7 linked regions of the Homo sapiens genome follow. The protein of the gene in region 5 interacts with the protein of the main gene of each other region in a pairwise test. Each region holds a gene or a part of one and is shown on either strand. Other genes may lie near its edges.

Region 1 (4,200 bases), on a different chromosome or scaffold from region 5:
CAGGAATGGCAGCCCCAGAGAGCTTCTGGGTGGGGTTCAGTATCAGGGAGATACTGCTTCCAGGTCAGGAAAGGTGGCCCTCTCTCTCCAACCTTCCTTACATTAATCCAACAGGCATTTCCTGAGTGTCTGCCATGTGTAAGGACAGTTGGGGATACACAGTCCTACTGGCTAGCTCAGGAACTAAGAGTATTATCTGTACAGCAGTAACTGATGTGGCCTTTGAACAAGGGAGGGTGTGCAATGAAGTTGCCTCAGAAGTTCTGGTTCCCCCCATTCAGCACCCCTCTTACACTTTCATGATCTTTAGGGCGGTGACATCCTTGCGTAACGTGGACACCTCCTCCTCCTGCTTTTTCTTCTCCTTGTGCAAAAACTGAATGTAGTCAATGGCTAGGGTGGGGGCAAGAAAAAAAGGACAGGTACAGAAGTATTCTCAACCAAGAAGATAAGGCTGACTTTGTTCCCCTTACCCCAGACCCCAACTATCCCATGGCAATCACCACACCAAGGCCGAGCCATGGGTGGGTAGGAGGCACTGGCCTCTTCACAGCCCCGCTTGGCTCCATCCCCTCCAGTGCTTTCCCTAGCCATACTCTTTTGTAGAACGATGGCTTTGCTGAGCTTTTGGGAGCCAATGGAGAAGTCCTGCTGCTGGCAAGTGGGGACGATGGTCTGAAGGTCATCATAGCCTCTCTGTGGAAACAGCAGGGGAAATGGGTTCTTTAACCCTGAGAGATTAAAGCAAAATGGCACAAAGTTCCTCCATGACACCAAGTTCTATGCTCACAAACTCAATGGGGTGGGAAGGCTGCAAGGGAGGTGTTTGTGCCTGGGACTATACTACCTGCCCACCCCCTAGGGTGCCTGGGACTGTCTGAGTGGGTCAGGGCACAGGGAAGCTAAACTATGCAGGGCCCTCCCGCACTGGCTGAGGCACAGGCCTCCCTGTTCACCTTGATGGCGTCCCTCCTCTTCTGCTCAGCCTGAGTGTGTGCGCGCCGCCGCCGGTCTTTGTAGGACTCCTTGTAGGCCTCCTGGTGGTAATCACTGTCCTCATCATCTACGCTCAGAGATGGGGGCAGGGAAAGGTCATCTTGGGGCCCAGTGGGGTCCAGCTAGCCCACCTTTCCCCAGCTGGGAAGAACCTGGTGTCCAGAGAAGGCAGATGGACAGAACCACCTAATGTTCCAGATGAGGTGAAAGATGGTGAGACCTTGTGTCTGATACTTTGGCTCCAGCACCCCTGTGTGGATGGCTGGGGCTTCCCTGTCTAGGAAAGGTACTACAATTATGACATATCTGAGCCCCCCGAGGTCGGGGGGGATGTTACTGCCTACCTGTGTTGGGGACAGAAGAGGCACTGGTGGAACCGATGCTATTAGCTCTGGACACTACACTCCCCTTGCGGGTGCTTTCTACAAAAAGCCCTGGAAAAGAGAGGCCCCAATCACTAAGGGGTGGGGTGGGGAACATTGCCAGACCCTCAGACACCTGTAGGACACAATGGCTTTCTTTTATTTATTTATTTTTTTTTTAGACAGAGTCTCGCTCAGTCGCCCAGGCTAGAGTGCAGTGGCGCGATCTCGGCTCACTGCAAGCTCCGCCTCCCAGGTTCACGCCATTCTCCTGCCTCAGCCTCCCGAGTAGCTGGGACTACAGGCGCCCGCCACCACGCCCGGCTAATTTTTTTGTATTTTTTAGTGGAGACGGGGTTTCACCGTGTTAGCCAGGATGGTCTCGGTCTCCTGACCTCGTGATCCGCCTGCCTCGGCCTCCCAAAGTGCTGGGATTACAGGGGTGAGCCACCGCGCCCGGCCACACAATGGCTTTCTTAAATGCTGACCTCTTCCCTTCAACCCAAAGCCAACCATACTGGGCCCCCCACTTCCTGCCAGACCACGCTGCAGTGCTCTGCTCCCTAGTGTCTACACTGCTCCATAGGCCTGCATGATACCCCCCTGGCTCACAAACGGGCATGTGGACGTGATGAGGGTGTGAGTGATCAGCTGCTCCACTGAGTGGTGAGTGATCAGTTCCACCACTTCCCTGTTCCAGAGCAGAGGGAACTAGGTGTCACCCTCAGTTGTTTTCTGCCCTTGTCCTTCAGCTCCTGCTGTCTCAAGCCAGGAACTCTGCTCAGGGAGAGTGGACTGTGCTCAGGCGTGGTTGGCAACGCCACAAGAATCTAGAGAGCCTGGGCGGGAGTGTCCCTCTAGAGCTTAAGATGGGGCAGCTACTCACCGGGGTCCAGGCTGTTGTCGCTGTAGGCATACTCCACCTGCGGCACAGAGCACGGGAAGGGCCCGTCAGACCTCCGCCCCTAGGGGGAGGCGCCCCTTCCACTGCAGGCACGCACAGCGCGCCCCCCATTCCGGGAAGGCGCCTCTGTCACCCTGCGCGCTTGCACACACACAGCCCGGGGTGCGCGGGCAGCTTAATGAGTCCCCCGAGACTGGCACAGGCTAGGGCGTGCGAGTGCCTCCCCTGTGTATGATCCCTTCCGCCCCTACTCCACCCCAGTGCCCCGTTCCCCCGACTCGCGCGCACACGCCTCGTTTGTCTCCCCACCTTGGCACACGCGGGGTGAGAGCTGTCTTCTCTGCAGCCCCGGGGCACGGAGAGCGTGGGGGACTTTGGGGACAGGAGGGAAGCCCCTCGTCTTCCGGCCCCCCTACGTGCACGAGCCCGACCCGCCCTCCCCTCGCCGGCGTGCGCGCCCACGGGGCTTGCCTTGACCCAAGGGTCCTCGGGAGAGGCGCCCGGCTCCGTCATCTTGTACCCACCGGACCGGAAACGGGCCAGCGGGCGGGCCCCCTGCGGCGAGGAAGCGGGTGGCGTGCCCACGTGACCCGCGCCCGCCAATCCGCGACCGAGAGGTGGGGCAGGGCGAAGCATCGCGCATGCGCAGCCCAAAGACTTTACTCCACGGTTCCAGCCGTCAAGGCCCGGCGCTTGGCCTGGCGCCAGCCTCCTTCGAGACTGCTCCCCGCCGTGCCTGCCCTCCCCGGGTTAGGCAGTGGAATGGCGGCGACATGAAGCGCGTTTTGTAAGATGGAGTCCCCTCAATTGGCTTGTCAGCACACCGCCGCAGATAGTGTGTGCACGCGCACTGTCCGGCCGGCCGGCTCCCCACGTTACCCTGAGGGCGGCCTCCCCGCGCTCACCGGACCTGCACTGCTGGCCGGTGTGTCAGGAACCGGGCAGAGAAGCCCCCAGCCACATCGTCCGACCCCACCAGGCTGCAAGCTCTGTGAGGGCAGAGGCCCCGCCTGGCGCGCGGAAGGCTGATCTTCCAACACCCAGCCCAGTGTCTGGCAGGATGCATGTGGAATGAACCCTTGCAAAGAACCTGCTAGCTAGGTTATGCGGCCTCTCATATTAAAAACAAAACAAAAACAATAAAACACGGCAGTACCTAGAAAGTCTACACCTTACTCAGAAGAACACAGCTGGTCAGTGGGAGGGCCAAAGCTCGCCTCTGGCTAGCCTCAAAGGCCATTCTCTTAACCACTGCATTGCCCAGGCTTCCAGCTCAGGCCTGGGCCCTGCACTTGTGGCTTAAGGATCCCAAAGATACTTAGGGGCATTGGAACAGGAAGCAGACACCATACAAGCAACATCTCAGAACATTCACCTTTAATTCTGTTACAGGTTCCAGTATTTGCGCTGGCCCTAGTCAGCTGTGGGTAAGAGTCACCCATGGGCAAGAGTGGGGAGGGGACTGCTCCCCCATGAACCACATCCTCAGTGTTGGCCAAATACCAGCGTGTTGGGTAGGCTTCCTGTGTCCACCAGGCCTGGCCATGTCCTGCACAGTATAGCTTGGACCTCTGGGCCTGAACCAGGGTGAGCATCAAGGCCCCCATTTCTCCTCACCACGGGGTCGCTTGTCAGCTCCAGGAGCCAGTCTGGCCCCACTGAGAACTTTTCAGTCGAGGGCCTGATGAGTCTTGGGAATGCGCTTCTGCAAGAGGGCCCAGGCTTTCTCCACCTTCAGACAGGCCAGGATGTTGGGAGGAAGAGAGGGCAGGGTCAGGCAGTACCCACTGGAGACTCCTTCCCCACAACCCGGCCTTGCCCTGGGCACCAACCTGGCGTTGGGTGATATGCGGCTCCCACAAGGTGCTGAGCACCACGTGGCTCTGTTCCACAAGCTGCTGCCCGCTCATCTGGCTCTGCAGCCGGCTTTGAGCCGCG
Region 2 (4,073 bases), on a different chromosome or scaffold from region 5:
AACACAATAATAAATTAAGAGGATTCAAGAAGCCTTCACTGTAGACTCTAAGAAGATTTAAGATTTGTACCAAGAAACAGGCTTCTAAATCTCTTCTACTGCATTAGTTTAGCATCTAAAGAACACCTGTCTAAAAATCAAAATATCTAAATCCTATCCTTTGAGTCAACTTGACTAACACTCAACTTGACTACCTAAAAGCTAGCTAATAATCGCAGCACCTCAGCAGAGCAGAGGTGGAGGGCATAGTTTTATGCACTGAGATCCTATAATAAAAGAAGCCCTATGTGTCAGAGTAATCCCATTTCTGACATATTATTTAATACTTTTTTTTTTTTTTTTTTTTTTTTTGAGACGGAGTCTCGCTCTGTCGCCCAGGCTGGAGTGCAGTGGCGGGATCTCGGCTCACTGCAAGCTCCGCCTCCCGGGTTCACGCCATTCTCCGCCTTAGCCTCCCAAGTAGCTGGGACTACAGGCGCCCGCCACTACGCCCGGCTAATTTTTTGTATTTTTAGTAGAGACGGGGTTTCACCGTTTTAGCCGGGATGGTCTCGATCTCCTGACCTCGTGATCCGCCCGCCTCGGCCTCCCAAAGTGCTGGGATTACAGGCGTGAGCCACCGCGCCCGGCCAATACTTAATTTTTCAAATCACTTTACAATCATATTTATTATTCCCTACAATTCTCTAAAGCAGGTTATTCCTTTAGTCCTGCTTCATAGGTGAAGAGACTACATATCATGAAGATTAAGTTATTTACCAAAACAAGTTAATGATAGACCAAGGATTATTACCCTCAGACTGTCTCATTGATTATACTCCTCTCTATCCTAAAGCTACACTTAAAGCTTTCATTCAAAGAAAAAGGAAAAGCAAAAACACCATCATATATGCTCTTTATTAAATGCTTCAGAAACAACAGCTCTGCTTCATCACTACAAAGCCTCCTGGTCCACTTCTGAAATTCTTAGTGACCTAGACGTGTACGAAATTTGAACTTTCCAAGAAGTATCTAGTTGGTGCTGAACAACCCAGTACTATTTTCGGGTGATAAATAACCTTGTTCTCTTTTTAAACATCTGCGATTGACATGTCGACTGACTGTTAACAATGAACAAAGACCATATTTTTCTGAAGCTCATCATCTTCCTAACCTTTTCTTTGAAAACAGATGTAGTTCATGTACTAGTTTTTTGGTGAAGGTAAAAATCTTTATTCAGATTAGGCTCAGAAAAAGAAGGGGCTGCTTTCCGTTCAACAAATATGCACAAGACACCATCCCACTGGGAGCATCAATCTCAGAAGCAGTAAAACACAGCCTCGGCCCTCAAAGGACTTTCTGAACACCTTTGGAGTGTCATCCGTTTAATATACATTATTTTAATTAATCCTATTAGCTGGATAATTTCATTCCCATTTTATTGGTGAGTTCATATAGCAGAGCTGGATTTGAATCCAGGATTACAGAGCAGGGCTCCAAAGCCCAAGTTATTTCCACTAAAGGGTCTGAAGAAATGTAGAATCTAAAAGTGTGGGTGGGATGGGGAAGATATGATTTGATTCCCTTTCCTTGGTCCAACCGTGTTAGAAACATCCAACCATAAAGAAGCTTTCTAAGGAAGCCCTTTGAATTGACGTATCCACTTTTTCTCACCCGCCCGTGCCCCACCCCCAGCCATGCCAAAGGAGCAGCAAATGCTGCTGCCAGGTTGGAGGAATTGGTGATCGTCACACCACATTCCTGGGTCTGGACACAGCCTGAAACAGCAGCAGAGCTCCGCGCCTCGGAAAGAATAACAGCAGTTGAGATTTTTAAATCATGTGCCTCAGCATGCAGCCACACCAGTTGCCCTACTTCTCCTGCCTCCACCTTTCAAAGACGCGAGCAGCACACCCGGCTCCTCCGGACTTTCGGTGGGGTTGGAGTGTCAAAACTCAGGCGCGCCGCAAAACCCCGTCCCCATCCAAACCAAGCCCACACACCCGGCCCATGTGCCGCCCCCTGGCAAAGGCGAGGCTGGCTGCGAAGGTGCAGGCCGTTTGGCTTGGCGGCCCTGCCCCCGCTCTCCACGCCAGAATCTGGCACGCCTTCGCTCAGCCCCTCCGAGGCCCGCCGTCGGCTCTCGCTCGACCCCAAGAAACGCGGAACCTGAAGGGCAAAACTGCCCACCTCCCTGCACCCTGGCACTACGAAAAAGGAGTTTCTGAGACTTGCTGCCGGCCTCCCTCCTGCCGAGGAGGCGTGTGAGGGGTCCCGGGCCGCGGGGAGCAGAGGCGGCGGGGAACCCCGGCGGTTGGCGGGGAACCCCGGCGGTTGGCGGGGCACCACGGGAGGGGCCCCCGGCGATGTCCAAACTCTCGGGAACCCAGCGAGTGGCCTCGCTCCGCGCCGGCGGCCGAGCCTGGCCTTCCCACACAGAGAAGGACCGAGGGGGAGAAGGGTCGCCCCAGGTGGCAGCCCCGGGCGCCGCGGACAGCGCCCCTCAGCCCGATACTCACCATGCGCGGGGGTCGCGCAGCACAGCCAGAGCGCCAGCAGCGCCCACAGCAGAGCGGCGCAGGGCGGGCATCTTCTCGGTCGCCGCCTCCTCCGCCGCCGCCGCCGCCGCCGCCGCCGCCTGGGCAGATCCACATGGGGAGGGGGTCCCGATAGAGGAGCCCCACTCTCTCCTCCCCTCCTCCTGCTTCAAAGGCTCAGGCCCTGGCGCTACGGTCCGAAGCACAGGCGCAAATGCCTCGACTCCCCGCGCCCCGAGTCCGCCGCTCCTCGGCCGCCGCCTCAGCCGCCGCCCGAAGTTTGGCTGAAACTTTCTCGGGTGTGCAGCGAAGCAGCCTCGTGTGTCCTTCCGCCTCAGCCGCCTCCTCCCACCGCAAGCCCCGCCCCACTGTCGCCGCGGCCTCGGCCCCGCCGCCTTGGGCACCCAGGGGTTTCCCGCAGGAAGAAGCGCCGGCCCGAGCTCCGCGCGGAGGGATCTACTACGAGTCACTGGCCCCGTCCGCATCCTTCTCCAGCAGCCTTAACTCGATCAGGGCTGCAGCGGCTCGCTGGCTTGACCAGTGCAGAAGGGGCGTGGAGGTGAGGGGGGTGGGGTAGGACTCTGAACTTCAAGCACTGGAGTTTGCCGGGATCGTGAACTTGCAGGGAGAGGCGGTCCTCATCCAGTGAGGTCTGTATCGCCACCTACACCCACACATCCACACACTGCTTTGCTAGCTAGAGGAATGCTCTGGAGTAGGACCAGTGCTGTCAAAGAAGGAAAGTGGGCCAAGGCGCCAAAGTCCATTAAAAAGGAATAGAGCCATCACGGAGTGGTGCTGCCCCATTCATTCATTCATTTGTTCATCCGTGTAGCGAATATTTCTTAAGTGCCTTACTTTGCGTAGCTGTGTGCTTGGCAGTGGGATGATACCAAAGATGCACAAGCAACTTTGAGTACCAAGACTTTGCCGCTGTGGGCTGGGGGATTCAGGGAAGGCTTTCCCAGAGGAGCTGGGATGAAAGCAGGATCTTGAAAGGTCAGTAAAATTTGTATAAGACAAGGAGACCAGCTAAGCTAAGGATATTCGTTGTAACACTGTAATAGCAAAACCTTGAAAACAACATAAATGCCCACCCTTAGAGGAATGGATGAATAATGTATGGTATATTTATAAAATGAAATGCAACACAGTAATTGAAAAGACTATAGCTATTTATGTCAATAGGGATAAATCTTAAAAACTAAATGATAGTGAAAATAATCGCAGAGGGAGACAAAGTATACCATTTATGTATATTTTTTTCAAGACAATACTACACATTATCTGTGGATGCATATATATAGATATAGATATAGATATTAAGAGACTATAACCAGAATAGTAGTTACTTCCAGGGCAGGAGAGTAGGGGGTGTGATCAAACCTGGGTACAAGTGGGCTAAGAAAAGAGCTAAAAGTAAGAACAACAACAATAGTTGTATGGACATATCATTCCAGGAAAGAGCCCTCGTGAAAGCAAAGGTACAGTCAAAAGAGTAAGTAAATGAGTTCTGTCTCTGTTAGCAGTGAGAGGAGTCAAGGACGGAAAGGGGGT
Region 3 (3,500 bases), on a different chromosome or scaffold from region 5:
AAGCAAGTTGTATGTGACGGTCAAGTTCCCAGTTCCCAGAGGGAATGGCAATGGATAATAAGGTTGACCTGAGCCATAGTGGACTTGCTCTCCTCAAGATGCTGTGTCGTAAAAATGAGCTATATTAAGATAAATCATGCTGACTTTTATTTTCCTCAAGAATACACTGCTGGCTGCTTGGATTTTTTTTTTTTTTTTTTTTTTAAACTTCAAATTTGTGTTGCTGTGAACAGCTGGGCAAGTTTTTACCCTGTCATGGAAACTATCTGGCCATTTTTGCACTGTTCTGTATGCTGGGAAGGGAGGTGAGCAGAGCTTGCCAGAAAAGAGTTCTAAGCTCAGTTTCTATGCTCTCCTGTAACTTCAGGGACTTGTGAATGTCCAGTTTGTTCCTATTTGTTGCTTTTGTATAGCATGTCGTAATCTGGCTACAACCTTCCTGGCTACCTATTTCACAGGGCTGTTGTAGGAAATTCAGAAAAAGTTTCGTGGTCCTGTTAAAAAGAGCATTCAGCAAAGAATTGAAAAGGTAAAGTTAAGTATCACCAGCATTACATTTCCTGCCTGAATTAATCTTTTCAAAGAACTCTGAGATCTGAGGCTGGCAAATTCACTAAAAAGGCAAAGAATTACTTTAGGTTATTTTTACTAAATCAGGCATCCTAAAAATACTCTTTTTTGATGCCTTGATCAAGAGAGAAGAAATTTCAGAGAGAAGAGGCATACAAATGCATCTACAGTTCTACAAGTAGCCCAATTTCAGTATCAATTTATCCACTCACTATAATAAATATTAAATATATACAATATACAAAGTATTAAGCTAGATACTATAAGGATGAAGAATTATGTAAAAGATGTTCCTATATCCTCCTGTACTACAAGTACACTGTAAGATGTAACTTTTGTTTAGATTTCCTTCCCAAATAAGCAAAGGTTTCTAGTTTCCCTGGGACAAAGAAGGTGAAAGAACAAAATAATTTTTTTTAATCTATTATGACTTTCTGGATTCATAGAAACATTTATTTTAGAACATTCAGGGAGACTTATCTGTTAGTTTCTACTGATGAGTACCAAGAGTGACTGAACTACAGAATGGCTGTGACTTCCAAAGATAACCTGATTAAATCTGACATGCACATGACATGGGGGGAGCAAGGAATCCATGTGTCCTTCAATTTCAATAAGAAGAGTTAAAATGTACTATCGAAGGAAGAAGATCACAACCGTGTGGTTTAGAAAGCAGACCAAAAACAACAGGACAGAAATATTCCAAATAACTTGGAATCCAAGTCACTTGGGTTTCCTTGAATGCCCTGCCATATTAAATCACATATGGCTCTGCAATGAAAGGAGAAGTTAAGGCCTGTCTCATGCCCCACTTCTGCCACTGACTGAGCTTGAGAAAGCAAATTCAATCTTTTAAAGTTATTCAGGGAAAGGCAGAAATGGTAGTCTGGACATATAATGAAATAAGCTTATTAATGTGGGGTAGAAGACGTCTTGAGCAATTAGCCAGTGTCCTTATCCAATTAAGTTGGAAAAGAAAGCCCCAAATTTCCTTAAAGTTTTACTGGTATTAGTTTGCTAGACTGACAGTTCCAATATATACATTCTTTGTATGTGTTTACTTTTCCCCCTAGAGTTATGGCTAAACTGAATAGAACCAAATTCCCAAGATCTGCTTCTTTCTCTTTTAATATCCTATTTTTCCAAAGCCACCGAGCTGATGTCCTTCAACAAATGGATTAAAGTAAATGCTGAGAACCAGCTCTCGTGTCCGAGCAGGGGGGAATGAAGGGTTTATACCCAAGGCAACTAGGGGCATACTCATGATGGTCAATATAACATTAAGGAAATCTGTAGTACATCAAATGATATTCTGAAGTTATGGTTCTATTCAAGCTGAACCATCTTTTGGGAAGCCAATCACAAACAAGATTGCTGTATTTGGAATTCTGACACCAAGAACGCCTAGGCAACCTCTTCACAGAAATGGAAAATAAGACTCAGCCAGCTCCATGTCCCATGGTGTAACCTCACATGCAGCACATGAACAGTTCTTAGTTATTATTACTTTTGAATGAAAAGTAGATCGACTTACATGGCTCTCTGGCAATGAACTGAGGTACAGTGTTGGGCAGAGGAGTACTGGGGTTTGGAGTCCCTACGAGTTTGTTCTTGGCCATCTTCGTGTTTGCCTTAGCAAACTCTAGTCGTAGTGTTTGCGGAATTTCAGGATCGAAGCGGATGCCCTTTGGAAACAGAGAACAAATGGAAGATGTTTTCATTTCCTTTGAGTCAAACCGGAATGGTGACAAAATAAACACACCAGTAAACCCTGGTCTATCAGGAAAAAAGGTCAGCAACCACTCTCATTCTTACTACTTACACAGGTTACATGAAAAATGACAACACAAAGTGTCCCGAAAGTCAGTGGGATTTAGTTTAGTTAAAAAATGTAGTTACACAGATTTTCAACTATTCCTTTTCTTTTTAGACAAAAACTTTTCAGTTTAAAATTTGAACCAGCAAATTCCTAGCACAGTTACACACTTTAATATATAGTAATTTCAGTTACCTCTGACCCTATTCCTGCAGTTTACCTAAAATAGATTATATTCAGTAAAACAAATCACAGACACTATGAAAGACACTAGCGCAAGACAAGTCTATTTGGAACCTTTCCACCATTCAAGAATGTCTTCATTATTAAGCATCCAATACCATGAATTCTGGACCCTACGTGTCAAAAAGATATCCCAAGAGAGTGTATTTTAAATGTGCACCCATGGGACCCACTCAGTTCCCATGTTTTCATGGTGTGGTCTGGAAAGGGACTGGAGTCCTGAAAACGAGTCTCCTAAGAACACAGTTGCCATTTAGTGTTCTGAATGTACACACATGGGCCTGAGGGCTCCAAAGCATCCCCCGCCCCCTCGCCACCATTCTTCCTAATGAGCTTGAAAAAAAATAAGAGCAGGCAGGGCGTTGTGGCTCATGCCTGTCATCCTAGCACTTTGGGAGGCCGAGGCGAGTGGATTGCCTGAGCTCGGGAGTTCAACACCAGCCTGGGCAACATGGTGAAACCCCATCTCTACTAAAATACAAAAAAAAAAAAATTAGCTGGGCGTGGCGGCATGCACCTGTAATCCCAGTTAGTTACTTGGAATGCTGAGACAGAATTGCTTGAGCCCATGAGGCAGAGGGTACAGTGAGCCAAGATCGCGCCATTGCACTCCAGCCTGGGTGACAGAGCTAGACTCTGTCTCAAAAAAAGAAATATCCACAAAAACAAGACTCTCTTACTCTAGAGACCAGGATGAACAACTCTGAACTTCACAGGCTCAGCTTCAAGTATACAAGGAAGAGCCTGTGGCTGGATGGTAATGGCATTAACAGGAAACAAGGGGGGAAGGGGAAGGAAAGAGAGGTCCTTAGGGAGGCCTAACAAAAGCCACAGAGCCCTGACCCAGAAGTCTTGGAGTGGGTGGAACTTC
Region 4 (3,500 bases), on a different chromosome or scaffold from region 5:
CGCCTCGGCCCCCCAAAGTGCTGGGATTATAGGCATGAGCCACCGCGCCCGGCCTTCTTTTTGTTTTGAGATGGAGTCTCGCTCTGTTGCCCAGGCTGGAGTGTAGTGGCACAATCTTGGCTCACTGCAACCTCTGCCTCCTGGGTTCAAGCGATTCTCCTGCCTCAGCCTCCTGTGTAGCTGGGATTACAGACGTACACCACTACACCCAGCTAATTTTTGTATTTTTAGTAGAGATAGGTTTTCACCATGTTGGTCAGGCTGGTCTTGAACCCCTGACCTCAAGTAATCCACCTGCCTCAGCCTCCCAAATCATTTTTTTATCATTGAATAATATTCCATTTTATGGGCAGTTTATTTATCAGTTGAAGGACATTTTTGTTGCTTCTAAGTTTTGGCACTTATGAATAAAGCTGCTATAAACATTTGTGTGCAGGTTTTCGTGTGAACATAAGCTTTCAACTCATTTTGGTATATACCCAGGAGCGTGATAGCCAGATCATATGTAAGAGTATATTTACTTTTGTAAGAAACTGCCCAGCTGCCTTCCAAACTGGTTGTACCATTTACATCTGACCAGCAGTGAATGTGAGTTCCTATTTCTCTATATCCTGGTCAGCCATTAGTGTTGTCAGTTTTCTGATTTTGGCCATTCTAATAGGTGTCATATAGCGGTGTCTTTTTTTTTTCTTTTTGTTGTTTTAATTTGCAACTCCCAAATGACAAATGATGTTGAGCGTCTTCTCATATACTTATTTGCCATCTGAACATCCTCTTTGGTGAGATGTCTGTTAAGGTCTTTGGCCTATTTTTTAATGGTTGTTCATTTTCCTATTGTTGCGTTTTAAGAGTTCTTTGTATGTTTTGGATATATATCCTTATCAGATATATATTTTTCAAAGATTGTTTCCTAGTGTGTGTCTTGTTTTTTTGTTCTCTTAACAGTGTCTTTCACAGAGCAGAAGTTTTTAATTTTAATGAAGTCCAACTTAGCAATTTTTTCTTTTGTGGATTATGTTTTTGGCATTGTATCTAAAAGGTCATCACCAAACTCAAGGTTACCTATATTTCCTCCTATGTTATCTTCTACAAGTTTTACAGTTTTGTATTTTACAAGTAGGTCTGTGATCCATTTTGAGTTAACTTTTGTGAAGAGTTTAAGGCTTGTGTTTAGATTCTTTATTTTTTTGTATTTAGATATCTAGTTGTTCCAACATTATTTGTTGAAAGACCCTCATTTCTAAATTGAATTGCCTTGGCTGGGTGCAGTGGCTCACGTCTGTAATCTCAGCACTTTGGAAGGCAGAGGCAAGTGGATTTCTTGAGCCCTGGAGTTCAAGACCAGCCCGAGCAACATAGCGGGACCCCCATCTCTACTAAAAATAAAAAAATAAAAAAATTAGCTGGCACGGTGGCTCATGCCTGTGGTCCCAGCTACTCAGGAGGCAGGGGCAAGAGATTTGCTTGCGCGTGGGAGGTTGAGGCTTCAGTGAGCCTTGATTGTGCCATCGCATTCCAACCTGAGCAACAGAGTGAGACCCTGTCTCAAAAAATAAAATAAAACAAATTTCCTTTGCTCCTTGTATTTTTTTCAAGGTGAAAAAAAAGACTTCTTTCTGGCTTCCATTACTATATAGATGGTAGTGCCACTGAAATTGGGAATACAAGAGGAGCAGGTTTGGAGGAGGAAGATAATGAATTTAGTTTTAGATACGCTGATTTGGAAATATCTGTGGACCTTTGGTATTTTCAAAGAAGCAATATCCTTTCCTAGATTTCAGGAGTATAAGAAAATGAAAGATCATTTAGCTCAATGCTATGTGTATACACAAATGGAAATCAAGTTATCTAGGCTAGATGCACAGTCAGTGCTAAAAGTCAGCCTGACTTCTCTCCATTCAGGGTTCTTTCTACTGCAGAGAGAGGGCTGCTCTGGAACCACAAGGAGCCCTTCTGAGAGGTTTTGCCATTGCCCTTGAAATACAAATCTAACCCTAGCTTGTTCAACTCTGCTGCAGTTCCAACATAGTTCCTGGCCTTTCCCTGTTATTATAATGGCCTTTTACCATATCAAATTCAGTTTGGGGTTTAGGAGGTTATGACACTGTAACTGTTTTTGGGTTGAGAGAGTAATCTGCTCATTTAACCCTCTTATAGTCTGGAAGGCAAGGTCAAGGAGACAGTGCACAATGCCTTTTGGGACCATCTTAAAGAGCAACTATCAGCAACTCCCCCTGACTTCAGCTGTGCTCTTGAACTTCTGAAAGAAATTAAAGAGGTGAGTGACCTTCCATTTGTAAATGTAAAGTTTCTAGACATCTCCAGCTCATTGGAGTGTCAGTGGCTAGCAAATCTTAACTGAACATGGTCCATGAATCAGTCAGAGACTAAGCAATAGACAGAAATCATACAGTAATTTTAGCAGGGAGGGTTTAATATAAAAATTATTATAACAGAGAGTAGGAGAAATGAGGGCTTGGCTAGTAAGAGTAAGGAAAACTAAAGAATCCTTGAATATCAGATAAAAGGGCATCTATCATACCCTTAGGGCTGAGAGAGGCCAACCAAGGACCTCATTTGAGAGGGCATAGCTATGCCATGAGACGTTACTGGCCTGTGTATGCTGCTGACCACAGTGCACTGCAGGAACCAAGCACTGGAGAAGCTATTCATGCTGCAGGAGCCAAGTACTGCAGGAGCCTGCTGAGTGAACATACCAGAACCGGGAATAAAAGCTCTTGCCTTTGCAATGTCTTTCTAGTATGTGGCAGACATACCGTAAGGTGACCCACAATGTTCTGCACCCTTGTATAATCTTCTCCCCTTGAGTGGATGAGATTTGCAACTTCTAAGCAGTACGGCAAAAGTGATGGGATATAACTCCCATGATTACATTTCATCATGTAATACTCTGTCTTAGGAGACTGGAGGGAGAGATTCTCCTGCTGGCCCTGAAGAAGCAAACAGCTGTGTTGTGAACTGCCTATCGAGAGGGCCACATAGCAAGGAGCTGCAGGTGGCTTCTAGGACCCGGGGTTAGCATCCAGACAATAGCCAGTAAGAAGCTGGGGCCCTCAAGTATACAGTTGTGAGGAAATGAATTCTGCCAACAATCTGAATGAGCTTGGAAACGGAATCTTTCCCAGTCATGTTTCCAAATGAGAATGCAGCCCAGCTAACACTTTGCTTGCAGACTTGTGAGACCCTGAACAGAGGACCCAGCTAAACTGCGTCTGTACTTCTGACCCACAGTAACTGAGATCATAAATGTGTGTTCTTATAAGCTGCTAGGATTATGGCAGTATGTTACACAGCACAGAAAACTAAATAACACTTTCTGCCGGTGAAGCTTAAAATGTGCTATCTGGCAAAGGAAAGATATGGAAAGGACTTAGTTCCATTTTCACAGAGCAAAGAACAATGGATTTGGATCTGTGAGGCAATATATTGATAAATGGCACAGTCCACCCCTTCGGCTACTCAGTTTCCACATGCGCTCT
Region 5 (2,540 bases):
AAATATCTAAAGCCCAACCAAAATTAGTGTGGAGATCCCACAATCTGGGCATTGCAAAGCCCATTACCAGAAGCAATGACAATGCACATCCTAGACAATGCTTTACTAATAAATAGCAATATTAACAGCACATTTGGACAGAAGAATAAAGAGTTTATTAAAATAAAATCTTTTTCACTTCCTATCTCTTTTGGAAAGAAATACAAAAACTATAAATTATATCTATAATGCAGTTTGGATCACTCATTGATCCAATGGCTTCAGATATCTGAATTATAAAATCCATGCCTTCCCTTCCCAGAGTTATAGATCCAGATTGATCCAGTTATAGATTATTCATTGATCCAAACTGCAGTTTGACAGAACTAACATACAACCCAGTTTTTGAGGGCTGGAAAGTAAGGAAGACCTGGTGATCAATAATATTAGAATACTTCTCAAAGGAAGAAATTAACAGATGACCTTACTAAAGAATATGCATTTCTCAAATGAGTTTTACCAGTCACCACATTAGTCAGTAGAAACCAGATCTACAGAATGGCTGATAACAAGATGAATGGAACCACCTTCTAGGTGGAAAATAGATTGGATGGCAGAATCTGGATCTATAACTCTGGGAAGGGGAGGTATGGATTCTATAATTCAGATATCTGAAGCCATTGGATCCACAGCCCAGTGAGGAGCAGCTCCTGGATCCACAGCTCAGGGAGCAGCAGCTATTGGATCCAAAACCCCGAGACCCAACATGCATAGTCAGGCAAGAATTGCAGAGCATGTGAGTCCTGGGGTAGTAGCAGGAGGTGTGGCAGGGGCTGGACTCAACACACAATGTCTGACAGCTGTTGGGCCTCCAGCAGGTCTCCTGACAGCCCCTATAGAGAGAGGAACCCAGCTGGCAGGTGCTGGGAGAGCAGAGGTCAGTGCTGTAGACCAGGTTGCTGGGGTAGGAAGAGCCACAGGAGGAGCCTGGGTAGTGCAAGTAACCCCCGTGGGAGCAGGAGGAGAAGTTTCTAGAGCAACAGTTGTAGGACATGTTGACGGGAAGATGTGAGTTCAGCTGAGTGTACCTGGGAAGATTCTGAGTTTTAACGTGGCATCCTGGACAGTGTCATTTATATCCTCTCAGCAATAGGTGTGGTGCACAGCAGAGTCATCCCTCACATTTTTGTGCTCCCTCATTTACATATGTGTAGCTCAGCAATCTTGCCTGTAATTGCATTTGAATACTTTTCCACATGTTGTATTTATGCGTGCTATAATTTTGGTGTTATAGCACAAAGCCAATGAACTGCACTTATGCCAGAAATGCTATGACTGTTTCGTATTAATATTTATTTTATTATGTCTAGGAAAGCACCTCCTTTTCCTCCTAGCATAATTTTCATGTGTCTTGTTATTGGCTGTTATGGGCAATAATTTTCCCTAAACAGTGAGAAATGAGATAAAGTTACATGTCTTTTTTGTCAATGGATTAGAGACACAACTTTGGCCTTAATGAGAAACCTGCTGAAAACTAAACCTACATGTCACCATCCTTTCTCATTCCACAAAAGTTTCCTTCATCTATTATGTACTGTTACTCACTGTGTCTCACATCCAGTGTAGAGGGAAAAGTATGAGCCAAGACAAATTGAATAACATTGATGCCTATGACCAGAAGGAAACCTGGACAATTATTTGGAGACATGGTGACAGCAAGGGATGGAACTGAGACAATCACAAATGAAAAACAATTCTGGGGCCTTATGAAGAGAATTAAAGTGTTAAATAAACACACACCATTGAAATGACAGAAAAAAATAAATGAATTTTAGATTCAATGCATCTAATATGAGGCCCATGGTCCTAAGAGATTCTCATTCATATGTGTGGCAGCCTGGAGAATTCTCATCTCGGATCTTAAATTACAGGAGGCTTAAATAACCAGTGGTCCTACCTGCTGTGTTCTAAAAGTTAACACTGCATTTTTGGGGAAGGCTTGCTTTCTCTGGGCTGCTCCCAAGCAAAGACTGAGCACAGTGGGATATAGGAATTCCTGGAAGACAATTGACGGCCAGCTTTGACTCAGGGTTTCCTCAACGGCCTTAAAGAACTACTGTCTCCTGCATAGGTCTCAAGCACTTCTTTCTCTTTCTCCTTCACTTGGGCCAGACCTATGTCCAAATCTTACAACTCTCCCAGCCTCTCTCAGGGGAGACTCTGGAAAGAGAAAAAATGCAGAAAATCTGTAAATATTTAATCTTGTTTATACTTTTTAAAAAGTGATACTGTTTGGATTTGTGTCCCTGCCCAAATCTCAGGCCAAATTGTAATCCCCAGTGTTGGGGAAGGCCTGGTGGGAGATGATTGGATCATGGGGGTGGATTTCCCCCTTGCTGTTCTCGTGCTAGTGAGTTAGCTCTCATGAGATCTGGTTGTTTAAAAATGTGTAGCACTTCCCCCTTCACTCTTTCTACTGCTTCCCTTGTAGGACTGCCTGCTTCTCCTTCATTTTCTGCCATGATTGTAAGTTCCCTGAAGCCTCCCCAGCCGTGCTTCGT
Region 6 (3,500 bases), on a different chromosome or scaffold from region 5:
AGGAAAGAGCATCAGCTGGCAGCTGCAAGCCACCTGGGGTCCAGTTGGCCCTGAAACTTCCAGGTCACATCACCTGGGAAAGCCAGAACGTCACAGGCCTGGACCCCAGTTTCCGACATGTCGAATGAAGATGGTCACAGCCCTGATCTCACAGGGTGGTCATAAGGGTGAGCCTGGCACACGGCAAATACTCAACAAATGCTGGCCGTTATTGTCATTTGTGTTATTAAGGACAACCTCTGCTGCTGCAGGCTTTGGGAAACCTCACGTAAACATGATTCCTGGGCCAGATTTTGATGCTGGACTTTCCAAGTGCCGGCAAAGTCCCAAGGGAACATTTGAGTTTGACACGACTGTTTCCAGGACTACCTCTTGCCTGAATGGCTAAAATTCCACTCTGGAAACCATCCCATCCAATTCCACCTCTCCACAAGTCATTCCAGAGTCAAGGATGTCTTTCTAGCAAAGTCTCACCTCTGCAGATCAACTGCTCCCACGGGGGCTGAGGGCCTGGCTCTGTGCTAACCGTGTGTGTTATATGTGTGGCATGTGCATGAGACACTGGGGACAGATGGAAGCCAGAGTGAAGATCTCTGGTGGGTGCCAATTTGGGCATCAAGGGGGCCACAGCTGTGCCCTCCCTGGGGCCCCTTCCTGCTCACATTCTGCAGTGAGGGTTCAGTAGAAGGATCTGACTAGAGGGGCCCAGGGGTGTCAACTCGAAGGGAAATAGACGATCTCACCATGCAAAGATCAGAAACAACCCAAAAGTTCAACAGTCCTCACATCAGCTATCTGGGTTAGGACTGAAGTTCCCGTTCTGACTAAGAGGGGACCATGTCTCAGGGAGCAGAGTAACAGCTAGATGGGACCTAAGATCGCATCTGGGCGATGGAGCGCTGGGCCCTTCCTTCAGCCCTAGGCTAGCTTCCCACTCTGGCAACATGGGCACTGCCATGTCCAAGGAGGACCGTCCAACTGCCACACAGTGACTTCCCAGGGGATGCCCACCAGCACTGCTGGTTCTCGGAGGAAGTGCCATGTTCCAGGAGGCCTTTTCCTACAGCGGCCATGGATTAAAGAGAACGCCAGTGACTTGGAACCAAGGATGCTGGGCACATCCCATGCTCAGAGGCACCTGGAAGAGGGGACTGCCCTAGGCTCAGGGTTACCTTGGGGATCGACTTCCTTGGCCAGCTTGAGGGCGTCGGAGTTGGCCAGGTCCATGTTGGCGGGCGTGACAGCCAGAATGAGGCTGCTCTCCCGGCTGATGAACTGCAGGATCATGTCCTTGATCTGGTACTCGATGTCTGGAGGCTGGTCGCCCACAGGCACCTTGGTGATACCCGGGAGGTCGATGAGGGTCAAGTTCAACACTGGGAGGGAAACCAGAAGGAAAGGCATTCAGAGCCAGGAGAGGGGAGGCACAAACAGGCCCGCAGCCACCCAGCTGACTACCAAAGTTCCTGCGCGGGGCTCAGACTTGAGGATGTCGCCTGACACTCTGCCTGAACCACACCTTTGATCCAGTAACTCCCCTTCTAGGATCCCATCCTACAGATACCTTCTACCTACTCCATTTCAATGGCACAGTTCTAAATCAGGACAGTTCAGACTGGAATAGACCTAAATGACTGAATAAATTTCAGCCCATCCATTCAGCCAATACCAAAGAACCATTACAGACAAACAGATGAGGCTGGGTGCGGTGGCTCACATCTGCAATCCCAGCACTTTGGGAGGCCGAGGTGGGTGGATCACTTGAGGCCAGGAGTTCTAGACCAGCCTAGCCAACATGGCAAAACCCCATCTGTACTAAGTATACAAAAATTAGCTGGGCGTGGTAGCACACACTTGTACTCCCAGCTACTCTGGAGGCTGAGGCATGAGAAACACTTGAACCCAGAAGGTGGAGGTTGCAGTGAGCTGAGATCATACCACTGCACTCCAGCCTGGGCGACAGAGCAAGACTGTCTCAAAAAAACAAAAACAAAAGACAAATGGATGAGGCCAGGCGCGGTGACTCATGCCTGTCATCCCAGCACTTTGGGAGGCCATGATGGGTAGATCACTTGAGCTCAGGAGTTCGAAACCAGCCTGGGCAAGATGGCGAAACCCTACCTCTACCAAAAATATAAAAAATTAGCCTGGCATGATGGTGTGCATCTGTTGTCCTAACTACTCAGGAGACTAAGGCGGGAGGATCGCCTGAGCCCAGGAGAAGAAGTGAGCCAAGATCTCACCACTGTACTCCAGCTTGGCCAACAGTGTTAAACCCTGTCTCAAAAAAAAAAAAAAATAAATATATAATAAAGAAACATTCTGAGAGGCATACAAAAAAAAAAAAAAAGCATAGGCCAACGCAGTGGCTCACACCTGTAATGCCAGCACTTTGGGAGGCCAAGGCAGGCGATCACCTGAGGTCGGGAGTTCGAGACCAGCCTGACCAACACGGACAAACCCCGTCTCTACTAAAAATACAAAATTAGCCGGGTGAGGTGGCGCATGCCTGTAATCCCAGCTACTCAGGGGGCTGAGGCAGGAGAATCACTTGAACCCGGGAGGTGGAGGTTGCGGTAAGCCAAGATTGCACCATTGCACTCCAGCCTGGGCAATAAGAGTGAAACTCCATCTCAAAAAAAGCATAAGTGATTTTTATGTTATGCTAACAATTTAAGGAAAAGGAGTGATAAACACATACACAACATATACATAGATACAATCACAATTGCTTACATGTTTTTTGCTTACACATTTTTTTTAAGATAGAGGGTCTTGCTATGTTACCCAGGTGAAGTGCAGTAGCTATTCACAGATGTGATCATAGCTCACTGCAACCTCGACTTCCTGGGCCCAAGTGACCCTCCTGACTCAGCCTTTCAGGCAGCTTGAATGACAGGTGTGTGAAACCACACCCAGCTCATGTTTGCATTGTCATCTGAAGAACCTAAAATATGTGTGCAAAACTGGTTGACAAGGTAGGTTTTTGCGATATACCTTTCTGTAATTTTTGAATTCTGAGCCACATGCAGGTGTCATTTATTGAAAAACAAATTTAAAACTTATCGCAAGGAACCCATCATGGTAGCAATCTGTGCCTCTGGGCCAGAGGATGTCTATGGCCCCGGGCTGCTGTTTGAATGCAGAGTTTTAAAATCAGGATATTTGGCTGGGCAAGGTGGCTAAAACCTGTAATCCCAGCACTTTGGGAGGGGGATGCAGGCGATCACCTGAGGTTAGGAGTTCGAGACCAGCCTGGCCAACATGGTGAAACCCCATCTCTACTAAAAATACAAAAAAGTAGCTGAATGGGCTGGGCGTGGTGGCTCACGCCTGTAATCCTAGCACTTTGGGAGTCTGAGGTGGGTGGATTGCCTGAGCTCAGGAGTTCGAGACCAGCCTGTGCAACATGGTGAAACCCCGTCTCTACTAAAAATAAAAAAAATAAAAAATAAAAAAAAAATTAGCCAGGCAGGGTGGTACACACCTGTAATCCCAGC
Region 7 (3,500 bases), on a different chromosome or scaffold from region 5:
TCTCCCACCCAGCGTCCGATTGTTCCGTGAGAACAACAGGTAGGATCCATAATTGTAAGGCTGGAAAACCTTAGCCATAGGGCAGAGTTTCTCAGAGTATGGTCAGTACCAACATTTTGGGGCCTCTACCCCCAGACAAATACATCAAAATTTCTGGTCACAGAAAAAGAATGAAAGAAGATTTTTTTTCTCGCCATTCTGGCCATCAAAGAAACATGGAAAAACATGCAAGATAATTCTGCACATGAGAGTCTGTGAATCTCTGCTCTAGTAACTTTACGCTATCATTTTTAGTGAAGAAAAATAATCATATAGGCATACTGTTTGCATATAGTCATTTCAAATCATTCCATTCAGTCTTAACTCAAACCAAGAATGAACCAAGACATTTGAAGAGATGAAATCTCAATTTCTCTGTATAATTTTAAATAAAGCATTCGCTCTAAAAGCTAAATGCACAGGAGTTCTGTTGAATGACTGACTATGTTTACAATTTGAAGCAATTTAGTAAACATGTATCACCACTCTTCTAAGAGATTTTGGGGAAAACTACAGTTAATTGGACAAAAACTCCATCCTCAAAGAGATTAAAAGGTGAAGTCAGAACTGGAGTACAAAATAGCAAGTAATAAGGGAGAGTCCTAAGAGTTCTGAAAAGGATTCCCTCCAGTTCTAATGAGCAGGAGAGGATTACTTGTAGTTTAGCTGTTAGTTTAACACAGAGTTAAATCTGAAAGTTGACCTGGGATGCACCATCTCTCTTTTCCCAATCTTTACAGATGCAACATATCTTTACAGAGGCCTTTTAGTAGCAGCATGTAGGGTGCCAGGAAGTTGCCCCCAGTGTGTAGTGGTGCAGGGAGAAGTGTTAGGATGGCAACCCTGCAGCCCCCAACTGCACCATGTAGAGTTGCCTGAGCCAGTCCCTAGCCTGCCAAAAGCACAAGGCTGGCAGGCCACAAGACAGAGGGGTAAATGAGAAACAGGGTGATCAGAGGTTAGATGTGACTCAGACATGAGTGGAAAGTCAAGGTGAAACAGCGCATCATCATAGATCATACAGTACTCTGAAGGCTGCTGTCATTTACCACATTCCATAAATTTACTAGAATTTATTCTCTATTGTTTGGGTTGAAATAATCACACATTTCAATTTAAAAATATAAAGAGAATATTAGACATTTAGCAGAATTTTCTCAGTGCCTACTGGTACTTCAGACCCTATATAGAGAGAATACTATATTTTCTTAAAATATTATGGTCTAGAGAGAGAGAGAGAGTCAGTTGAAAGTGTCAATAATTCTAAGTTCATTCTCATAAAAGAAAATTCTGGAGAAGACCAAGGGCAATTTTATGATAAAACAAAATAAGAAGACTAAAATTTTCAGATGAATATGGTTGATAAGAGAGTAGAGCCAGATGCACTAGGAAATGTATTAAAGAACATGAATATGTACACAACAGGATTCTTGTGCTCAAATTGTTTTTAATATTCAGATAATAAGTAAAGGTTTAATTTTGCTCTAAACAATGTGATTTTTTTATTTTTAGTAAGAATTTTATTTTGGGAAATCAAATTAAAGAACTAGTAGATAGGTCTCCTAACATAATAAATCCAATCTGTTATACAGTTGTACAGGAACAAACATAGTAAATATAGGGTTTGGTACCATTTTTGGTTTCAGGCGTACACTGGGGGATTTGAAACGTATTGCCTGTTGATGGGGAGGGACAACTGTACATGTGAGACACCCAGAAAAAATGCATAAATCTCAAAGAGGTGCCTAAAATTCAGGCTTGAATACCATCTTCAATGGCAAAGGAAGAAAGGGAGAGGAGAAGACAAGAGTAAGGTTTGTTAGGCAGATTATTCAGTTGGTGCCTTCTCAAGGATCAGAGTCTCCAGAGACTCTGTCCTCCTCATCCTAGTAAGGAGAGGGAGACACCCTTACAAATGGAGACTTCCTTGGTAGATATAAATTTCCCTTACAAAAGGGTCACTTCTACTCTGTTTTTAGAGCTTTTCCTGTGTCTACTGTTTCTCAAAATAATCAGCTTAAAATAATACTTATGCTAAAGTGGCATATTTTGGGGTGGCATATTCTGGTCTCATACACACTCAAGGTGGAATTTTCCATTGTTTGGTTTATAATGTTGGAGCATGAGTATTCTCTAGAGGTGTCAGTGTCAGAATGATCTTATACATACTCTGGTTGAAACGTCAGAATTGTTATGGGCTTGGGTTCGATATTTATATTAATATATTATTCTGGTCACAAGAGTATTGCAGGGGTTTAGATTTATCTCATTTTTCCCCATTTTTGACATTTATTTCCATTTCTCAATTTTTCTTTCCAGACCTGAGGTGCCCAGCTCACATGAAGCAGAGCCTCTTTCCCTCCCACAATCATCTCAAGATCACCAGAGCATCAGTTAATGCCTTACTTTCTGGGCTTATCTACTCCTGTATTTAAAGATGTTGTTTCTACATTTTCACTTGTCCTTGGAAATTATCTTTTTTTATTTTTTGCAAGATCATCGAAAATTTTTAAGTTCCTTAAATTTTATTTAGTAAGTTTAGTAGGAGGCATTTCTTATTATGTTAGGCTTCCATCTTGCAGGCCCCAGAACTTTCTGACACTGTGAAGGCCATACCAGCCCACAACTGCCAGGATCTATTGTATGTGGGAGGAAAATCAACTTCTACCCTGTAAAGTCATTGTGATTATTTTGTGTCTTCTGTCAAACACAGTAAAAATTAATTCTATTACACCTTTGACTATTTAGATTAGAGAATAAAAGACTAAGAGGCACATATTAATTTTTTTAAAATAACTAAACAATAACAATCTTTGCCAAAGAAAAGCATTTTGAAATGGGTGGTAGCATAGAGAGAAGGAAGAGTCCTTTCACACTAAGGATGTCATTGCCATTGGCATATCTGGCTTTAGAAACTACAAATGGCTCGATTAGCTTTAGAGTTCTTTCTGCTTTTTAGAATTTTTCTACATCACTAGAAACATATCTCTTATATTTAATCTCAATATGAAAACCTGTTTCATAGTACTTACAATAAATGCATTCTCAAATGTTACATCAAAGTACTCCACCTACAGTGATGTCTCCTTGTAGTGAATTAGAGACTCCAATCCAAAACGTATCATAAACTAAATATGCACCCGGTGAGGCCATGCTCCATGCAGACTGCACTAAACAAACAAACAAAATGCTTTAATAATCTTAGAGCATTCCAATTACCTGGACTTCCAGCTGGTGGTGAGTCCTTCCTGCTGTCAGTGTGCAGAATGACAGCCAGCCCCACAGAGTCTCCTGGGAGGACTGAGCTGCTGAGGTCCACCCGAGTCAAGCTCTGGGGCTCCCGCTCACAGCCTCCCGCCGCGTTTCTGGGGTCGTCGCCTCCAGTTGCATTCATTTCTTGACCTTTTCTCCACGGTCTCTGCACAATGTGAACAATGCTCTGCTGATCCAGGTCACAATTC

What was found.
Region 1: the proteins of KRTAP13-3 (region 5) and MLX interact in binary tests that used the Homo sapiens proteins (3 or more experiments, as listed by UniProt).
Region 2: the proteins of KRTAP13-3 (region 5) and NOTCH2NLC interact in binary tests that used the Homo sapiens proteins (3 or more experiments, as listed by UniProt).
Region 3: the proteins of KRTAP13-3 (region 5) and RBPMS interact in binary tests that used the Homo sapiens proteins (3 or more experiments, as listed by UniProt).
Region 4: the proteins of KRTAP13-3 (region 5) and TCP11 interact in binary tests that used the Homo sapiens proteins (3 or more experiments, as listed by UniProt).
Region 6: the proteins of KRTAP13-3 (region 5) and DNM2 interact in binary tests that used the Homo sapiens proteins (3 or more experiments, as listed by UniProt).
Region 7: the proteins of KRTAP13-3 (region 5) and PRKN interact in binary tests that used the Homo sapiens proteins (3 or more experiments, as listed by UniProt).

What each region holds. Positions count from the first base shown.
Region 1 is NC_000017.11:42,565,700-42,569,899, reverse strand, and holds the start of MLX (max-like protein X), read right to left. Parts: upstream 2,801-4,200; 5' UTR 2,776-2,800; coding exon 2,734-2,775; coding exon of another isoform or gene 2,572-2,733; intron 2,282-2,571; coding exon 2,245-2,281; intron 1,431-2,244; coding exon 1,341-1,430; intron 1,064-1,340; coding exon 957-1,063; intron 697-956; coding exon 597-696; intron 394-596; coding exon 294-393; intron 1-293. Other genes in the region: COASY (bifunctional coenzyme A synthase), read right to left, coding at 3,932-3,994, 4,095-4,200. UniProt on the Homo sapiens protein: Transcription regulator. Forms a sequence-specific DNA-binding protein complex with MAD1, MAD4, MNT, WBSCR14 and MLXIP which recognizes the core sequence 5'-CACGTG-3'. The TCFL4-MAD1, TCFL4-MAD4, TCFL4-WBSCR14 complexes are transcriptional repressors.
Region 2 is NC_000001.11:149,389,348-149,393,420, reverse strand, and holds the start of NOTCH2NLC (notch homolog 2 N-terminal-like protein C), read right to left. Parts: upstream 2,801-4,073; 5' UTR 2,634-2,800; coding exon 2,499-2,633; intron 1-2,498. UniProt on the Homo sapiens protein: Human-specific protein that promotes neural progenitor proliferation and evolutionary expansion of the brain neocortex by regulating the Notch signaling pathway.
Region 3 is NC_000008.11:30,503,041-30,506,540, reverse strand, and holds part of RBPMS (RNA-binding protein with multiple splicing), read right to left. Parts: intron 2,362-3,500; exon of another isoform or gene 2,256-2,361; coding exon 2,105-2,255; intron 1-2,104.
Region 4 is NC_000006.12:35,127,840-35,131,339, reverse strand, and holds part of TCP11 (T-complex protein 11 homolog), read left to right. Parts: intron 1-2,157; coding exon 2,158-2,278; intron 2,279-2,548; exon of another isoform or gene 2,549-2,762; coding exon of another isoform or gene 2,763-2,783; intron 2,784-2,920; exon of another isoform or gene 2,921-3,057; intron 3,058-3,500. UniProt on the Homo sapiens protein: Plays a role in the process of sperm capacitation and acrosome reactions. Probable receptor for the putative fertilization-promoting peptide (FPP) at the sperm membrane that may modulate the activity of the adenylyl cyclase cAMP pathway.
Region 5 is NC_000021.9:30,424,880-30,427,419, forward strand, and holds KRTAP13-3 (keratin-associated protein 13-3), read right to left. Parts: upstream 1,048-2,540; 5' UTR 1,034-1,047; coding exon 515-1,033; 3' UTR 501-514; downstream 1-500. UniProt on the Homo sapiens protein: In the hair cortex, hair keratin intermediate filaments are embedded in an interfilamentous matrix, consisting of hair keratin-associated proteins (KRTAP), which are essential for the formation of a rigid and resistant hair shaft through their extensive disulfide bond cross-linking with abundant cysteine residues of hair keratins.
Region 6 is NC_000019.10:10,773,579-10,777,078, reverse strand, and holds part of DNM2 (dynamin-2), read right to left. Parts: intron 1,377-3,500; coding exon 1,173-1,376; intron 1-1,172. UniProt on the Homo sapiens protein: Catalyzes the hydrolysis of GTP and utilizes this energy to mediate vesicle scission at plasma membrane during endocytosis and filament remodeling at many actin structures during organization of the actin cytoskeleton.
Region 7 is NC_000006.12:162,259,267-162,262,766, forward strand, and holds part of PRKN (E3 ubiquitin-protein ligase parkin), read right to left. Parts: intron 3,500-3,500; coding exon 3,259-3,499; intron 1-3,258. UniProt on the Homo sapiens protein: Functions within a multiprotein E3 ubiquitin ligase complex, catalyzing the covalent attachment of ubiquitin moieties onto substrate proteins. Substrates include SYT11 and VDAC1.